Homo sapiens: one gene and its partner. The protein of the gene in region 1 purifies or fractionates together with the protein of each later gene. This does not show direct contact. Each region holds a gene or a part of one and is shown in the gene's direction. Other genes may lie near its edges.

What was found.
Region 2: the proteins of CDK13 (region 1) and PALD1 purify together in Homo sapiens (affinity purification with mass spectrometry; 2 studies listed by BioGRID and IntAct, with this or other methods). This does not show direct contact.

The regions. Positions count from the first base shown.
Region 1 is NC_000007.14:40,093,256-40,096,817, forward strand, and holds part of CDK13 (cyclin-dependent kinase 13), read left to right. Parts: intron 1-874; coding exon 875-1,725; 3' UTR 1,726-3,562. UniProt on the Homo sapiens protein: Cyclin-dependent kinase which displays CTD kinase activity and is required for RNA splicing.
Region 2 is NC_000010.11:70,541,267-70,544,916, forward strand, and holds part of PALD1 (paladin), read left to right. Parts: intron 1-196; coding exon 197-268; intron 269-3,650.

The DNA.
Region 1 (3,562 bases):
GACCACTAACACAGCTGCATTACATTGTCTACTCAGTGTTGCTGACTATATATAATGTGTATAGTTCAGTGACATTGCCAAAAGATGTCCTGAAGAATCTCAGGTAACTGGCAATAGGTTGGTTTTTCAGTCTGTTTACTTCCAGGAATGGATTCTTTAACAAATTATCCATGTGAGATAGAACTCATTGTGAATGATAAAGATATTTCTAAGGTAAACCTATGGTTAAGAAATAATATTTAACTCCAAATACGAAAGGATGCTTGACTAAGGCATAATTTATGTACACAGTAGCTTTTGTTCCTCAAGCAATGAAGTATACGTGAATTCTGCACCTAGCCGTAATTAGCTTTAAAAAGCCAATTACGGCTGGGTGCAGTGGCTCACACCTGTAATCCCAGCACTTTGAGAAGCTGAAGTGGGAAGATTGCCTGAACCCAGGAATTCAGTACCTATCTGTGCAACATAGTGAGACCCTGTCTCTAAAACAATTTTTTTTAATTAACTGGGCATGGTAGCACATGCCTGTGATTCCAGCTACTTGGAAGGCTGAGGTGGGTGGATCACTTGAGCCCAGGAGGTCAAGGCTGCAGTGAGCTGTGATCACTCCACTGCACTCCAGTCTGGGTGACAGAGTGAGACCGTGTCACCAAAAAAAAAAAAAAAAATTTTTTTTTTTTTAAAGAGAAGCCATATACAGTAAAATTTACCAGTTACCATAGTACTTGTAAACTTTTTGCTTTTTTCATTTAACATTTTGCCAGAGATGGAACTTCTAATCATCTTTAGAACTACCTACAGGAAACACTGAGTATTTTGAATATTTAGTTTTCCATGGTAACTTTTGACCTTGTTTTTGCTCTGTTTCACTTAGGACAAGATGACCTCATCCAGCATCAAGATATGAGGATCTTGGAGCTAACGCCAGAACCAGACCGGCCTCGAATTCTGCCTCCTGACCAACGACCTCCCGAGCCTCCTGAACCACCACCAGTCACTGAGGAAGATCTAGATTATCGGACAGAAAACCAGCATGTACCCACCACCAGTTCTTCATTAACTGACCCTCATGCCGGAGTGAAGGCAGCCCTGTTACAGCTGCTTGCTCAGCATCAGCCCCAGGATGACCCCAAAAGAGAAGGTGGGATTGATTATCAAGCAGGAGACACTTACGTGTCCACTTCAGACTACAAGGACAACTTTGGATCCTCTTCTTTCTCTTCTGCTCCTTATGTTAGCAATGATGGTCTAGGAAGCAGTTCTGCTCCACCACTAGAACGACGTAGTTTCATTGGAAATTCAGATATTCAGTCTTTGGATAACTACAGTACTGCTTCATCTCATTCTGGTGGTCCACCTCAGCCTTCTGCCTTTTCTGAGTCATTTCCCAGTTCAGTAGCTGGATATGGAGACATTTACCTCAATGCTGGTCCCATGTTGTTTAGTGGAGACAAGGACCATAGATTTGAATATAGCCATGGTCCTATTGCAGTCCTGGCAAACAGCAGTGACCCTTCCACGGGGCCAGAGAGTACTCATCCTTTGCCAGCAAAGATGCACAACTATAACTATGGTGGTAACTTACAGGAAAATCCGAGTGGCCCCAGCCTCATGCATGGACAGACCTGGACTTCTCCTGCCCAAGGACCTGGATATTCACAAGGATACAGGGGACATATTAGCACATCAACTGGCAGAGGCAGAGGCAGAGGGTTACCATACTGAGTATCTGTTTTTCCTCAGGCACATCATTTTTATCTGGAAAGACTTTTCTAGCTGCAATTTAAGGCAGCAATCCAAGAGACTTGAATAATAATAATTCAACAACAGCTTTATTTTTATGTGGAGAAGGGTCTTGCATACAATAGTTTAAAAAAGACAAAAAAAACCTTTGCTTAAATTCATGCTGTTCTAAAAACTAGATCGATTGTACATCTTCACAAATTCTAGTTAACAATTTTATTTTGTATTCTTGCAGTTTTAAGTGGATGCTAATTTTAGGGGCATAAGCCTTTTATGGCCCTCTTGCAGATCTTCTGAACTATGCACATTTGTGCTTTTTTTGTAAGTTTGGACCAACTTTTATGTAACAAACAGCCCCTCCCCACCTCCAGTTTTACAACAATCAGAAAGGGCACTGATTTATTTGGTATTTTTCTTTTTACAAAGCTACCTTTAGTCAAAGGTCACTGTCAGTCTTTGCACCTGCTTTCAGTGTTATTGTGAAAGGTGTACTTTGTGCTCATTTCAGAAAATAAAACACAACCTTTCTCTTGATGCAACAGTTTTATAAAAAAAAAAATGGTCAACGTTATTTTTGTTTTGTTTTGCAGATTATCAAAGCCTAGCAAAATGCATTTAAATGAAATAGTGGGTTTTATATGAAAACTATGGGTGGGGTGGGGAGGGAAAGTAAGTGCCTTAACAGGTAAGCTTAAGGTCTGAAAAAAATAGTTAACTTTTACCCCCATTTGTCTTTTAAAGGGAATCAATGCATTAAAAAGGCAAGAAACTCTGAAGTTTCAGGGGCTGCCTGTTCAGTTCCTGTTAGGTCCATTCCCTCTGCTTGTCACACTTTCTCCTTTTCTGCCTGTCTTTGGGCTGTGTTGCCTTTCACTACCACCTTCTCTTGATAGGGGAGTGAGAGCAAAGAAAGGGAGTAGAACTGCAATCAGTACATATTGTTTGAGAAGTTCTACAAAGTTTTGTCATTTAAATGGTTGAAAGTAATAGCTCCAGGAGAATTTTAGAGTACCATTTTCTTTCAGGCTGCCATATTATCCCTGTTTCCATTTGCCATGGATAATTGGAGGGTCATGGTATAGAAGCAAGAGTTAATAACAGAACTTGCCTAAATGTGTTAAAGTTCATGGGGGAGGGGTGGCAAATACCGTATTTTAAGTTATGCAATTGCCCTTTTAAGAAAGTCAATTCTATTCACTTGTTAACTAGAAACATTGCTTAGATTGAATTTATTGAAGCAAAAAGAAAAGGCAATGAGAGAGAACTTTTATCTTCCTTCCTGTCACATTCTGTAAAGTTGATTATGACTTCTGCCAGACTTAGAGCAACAACTTTAGTTCATTTTAACATTTTTTTTTAATGAAGAGCATCAAAGAATGGAGTAGTCCTTATTTAAACTGTAATGGTGTCAAGTCTCACTGTGTGCACACTCTCACACATACACACACAATTATACTAATTCTAGAAAGGAACCAAAGGTAAATAACCAGTGTTTCCATTATCACTAAATGGAAAAATTGACTGGAAGTTAGAGTTGTGCCAATTAATCATTTTGTTCATCAACTGTTCTGGTAACTTATTTTTTTTTATTGGAATCTTAAATTGGAACAACTGTTACAGAATGTATATTGCTCCAGTTCTAAAGCCAGTTAACCCTGTGCCCTCTAACTTATGAACCTTCATTTCAAAACAGTATGTGGGAAGTCCTGTAGTTTGATAAGAGTAAAATTATTTTAAAGAGGATAATTTACCATTTTACTACTATAAAATAAGTTGATATCAGTTGACCATTTTATTTTTTGATGGACTCTTTTTGTTG
Region 2 (3,650 bases), on another chromosome or scaffold:
TTAGAGATTTGCCTGGAGGAGGGTAGACACTCAGGTCCCAGGCACACTGGCTCCACAGGAGGGTGTGAGGGGCAGAGACAGCCGGGTGTGGTCCCAGAGCCCCTTCCATCAGTCTTGGGCAGCCCCCAAGTCCTCCCCAGCAAGGGGCTCCTGGCGTTGGGAGGGGGCTTCTGTCTCAGCAGCTGTCTTCCCTCAGGGCTTCCCCGAGGTGGGTGAGGAGGAGCTCGTGAGTGTGCCTGATGCCAAGTTCACTAAGGGTGAATTTCAGGTGAGCATGCCCTGCGGGGTCCCTGAGGCACCTTGGGATGGGAGGAGGAGGAGGACTCCTGCTTGCCGGTCTAGGGGTCCTCAAAGCACGTCCCAATGCAGTCACGTCTGCCACCTCATCATATCAGTGCTTCCCTGTTCCCATTTTATAGATGAGCCCAGCAAGGCATGGGACAGCTTGGCTCTGAGGCCCTGGCAGACGGCCGGCTATGGAGATGTGGGCTGGACCCCTCCCTGCCCGGCCTTGCTGTTGGGCTGCTGTGTGCCTTGGGGAGGTCACTGGCCACCGTCTTGTCTGGGTAATGTTGATAACAACCTCCCAGCACCTTCAACCCAGCTGTGGTTGGTGACCTTGTGTGGGTCCCCAGCCTACTTTGCCCTGCCTGTTCCTCTATTTCAGATTAGGGCACTGGATGGCCAGCCACAAACATTCCAGATTTAGTCATCCATGTATTGTGCACCTGCCACATGCCACAGGCCATCTTCTCAGGCATCCCGAGAGTCGTGGCAACGTCCCTCGGAGTTGGCCCATGGCTGACCCACAGTCAGCAGCACAGTTGGCTCGTGTCTTACTGGTTAACTTCGCCACTTGCCCCTCCCCTGCCCTCGCCCCAGTCCTGAGGCCCTGACCGCCATGCAGCACCTCACACTTGCTAAGCTCTTGCAGCCTTTGCATATGCGGTGCCTTCTCCCTTCCTTCTTCTGGCTGATTCTCTGATTCTTTCCTTTTTCCTTTTCTTTATGTGGTAAAATATGCATAACATAAAATGTACCATTTCAACCATTTTTAAATGTACAGTTCAGTGGTGTTAAGTACATTCACGTTGTTGTGCAACTGTTGCCACAACCCATCTAACTCCTTCATCTTGCAAAACAGAACTCTGCTCTCCTATTCAGTAATGATTCCCCATCCTCCCTCCCAGCAGCCCCTGTTCTACTTTCTGTCTCAATGGATGTGACTACTCTAGGAATCTTCTATGAGTGGAATCGTACAGTATTTGTGTTTTATGACTAGTTTATTTCACTGAGCATAATGTTCTCAAGGTTTACCCACATTGTAATATGTGTCAGAATTTCTTTCCTTTTAGAGGCTGAATAATATCCCATTGTATGGATAGACCACATTTTGTTTCTCCATTCCTCCATCAAGGGACACTATTTGCTTCCACCTTTTGGCTGTCATGAGTAATGCTGCTATGAAATGCATAGTGCACGTAGCTGAGTCCCTGCTTTCAGTTCTTTTGGGCATATACTCAGGAGTGGAATTGCTGGATCCTATCGTAATTCTGTTTACTTTTTTGAGGAACCACCATGCTGTTTGCCGCAGTATATGCACCATTTTACATTCCCACCAGCAACACACAAAGGTTCTGATATTTCCACATCCTCACCAACACTTGATTTCTTTTTTCTGTTTTTTTTAGAGATGGGAGTTCACCGTGTTGGCCAGGCTGGTCTCGAACTCCTGACCTCAGATGATCCACCCGCCTCGGCCTCCCAAAGTGCTGGGAGCCACTGTGCCCAGCCGTTTTTTTTTTTTTTTTTTGGATAATAGCCATCCTGCTGGGTATGAAGTGGTATATTGTGGCTTTGATTTGCATTTCTCTAATGATTAGTGATGTTCAATATCTTTTTATGTGTTTATTGGCCACTTGTATATCTTCTTTGGAGAAATGTCTGTTCAAGTCCTTTGTCCATTTTTGAATTGGATTGTTGTTGAGTTTTGGTTCTTTATATATTCTGGAAACTAATCACTTATAAGAGAGGTGATATGTAAATATGTTCTCTATTCTGTGGGCTGACTTTTTACTCATTGATAGTGTCATTTGATGCACAAAAGTTTTTAATTTTGATGTAGTTTGTCTGTTTTTTCTTTTGTTGCCTGTGCCCTTGGTGCTATATCCAAGAAATCATTGCCAACTCCAATGTCATGAAGCTTCTCCCTTGTGTTTTATCCTAAGACTTTTATAGTTTTTAACTCTTAGGTTTAGGTCTTTGATCCATTTTGAGTTAGTTTTTTTTATATGGTGTGAGGTGAGGGTTATCTAAGTTTATTCTTTTGCATGTGGATATCTGGTTTTTCCAGCACCGTTAGTTCAAGAGTCTGTCTTTCCCCATTGAAGGGTCTTGGCACCCTTGTTGAAAGCCAGTTGACCATATGTATAAGGGTTTTATTTTCCAGCTGAGTTTAGTCTTTGCATCGGTGCCTTGAATGTGATGGTCAGGCCTCTCCTTCTTCACACCAGGCCCCGTGCTGGGAGCTGTGTGTACTCCCTCTGTCCCCTTTCCCAGCTCCCAGGAGGTAGGTGCTTTTACTGCTCCCAGTTTATAGATGAGAAAATGAGGCCTGGGGAGACAAGTTTATTACCCTAGGGCCACATCAGAGAGGTGGGGCTGGGGTATAAGCCAGGCTGTAGACCTCAGAGCCTGTGTTCCAAAGTTACATCATATGACCTGAAGACACCCCTGTACACCCTATCCTCACCCACCCCCAGATAATCTAGACCAGCTTCCTTTGCAATTAGTTCAGCATTTGCTGAGCCCACAGTCTGTTGGGGAGAAAGGATCAATAGAGCGTGAAGAGGCCCAGAGCAGACACTGGTTCTAAGGGCCAAGAGTGCAGCTGAGGGAGCCTGAGAGGACTTCATAGAGGAGGCAGCATTTGAGTGCCTTTGGGGAAGATGAGTGAGTATCCTTGGTGAGGAGGGGAGTGTCTGGAGGGATCAAGTGTGCAAAGGAGGGATTCTGGAAAGGGCAGGAACTATGTAAGGCTGTGATTTGTCAGAAGGGAAGCAGGCAGGACTGAGGGGTGGGGGCCCATATTGTGAAGGCCCTGGAGGTTTGCACTATGTGTTTGACCTTGACCGTGAGGCCAGGAGGGAGGCAGAGGAGGTTGTGATCAGGCTCTCAGTCTGGGGGCCCCAGCAGGCAGTTATATGTGGACTGGGGAGTGGAGGGAGAGGCAGGAGCTGAGTGAGGAGGGGCTGCAGGGTGAGCAGGAGCAGCCCAGTCCTCATTGGTAGGTCTTGAGGGCTCCTGGATGTGGGGTGAGGAGGGCACCTAGGATGACCTCGAGTTTCTGGCTTTGCAGTAGTGACAGCTGTCGATGTGGAATTCAGGGGAGGAACAGCTGCAGCAGAGGCCAGGAGTTGGGTTCCCTGTGAAGAGCTGCAGCCCTCTGTCTGAGGTGGCCCCCAGAGGACGCAGTTCCCTGCACCCTCCTGGGGACCTGCCTAGAGCTTGGGATTGGGGATGTGGACTGGACAGCTCCCTCCTACTCCCCTGGGCACAGCCTGAGCCAGATCTGCCACTAGTTCCTTCCAGACTGTTCCTTTTTCTCCTCCCACTTGGTTGCAACTCCATGCCTGCTGGGGTGCCCAGCA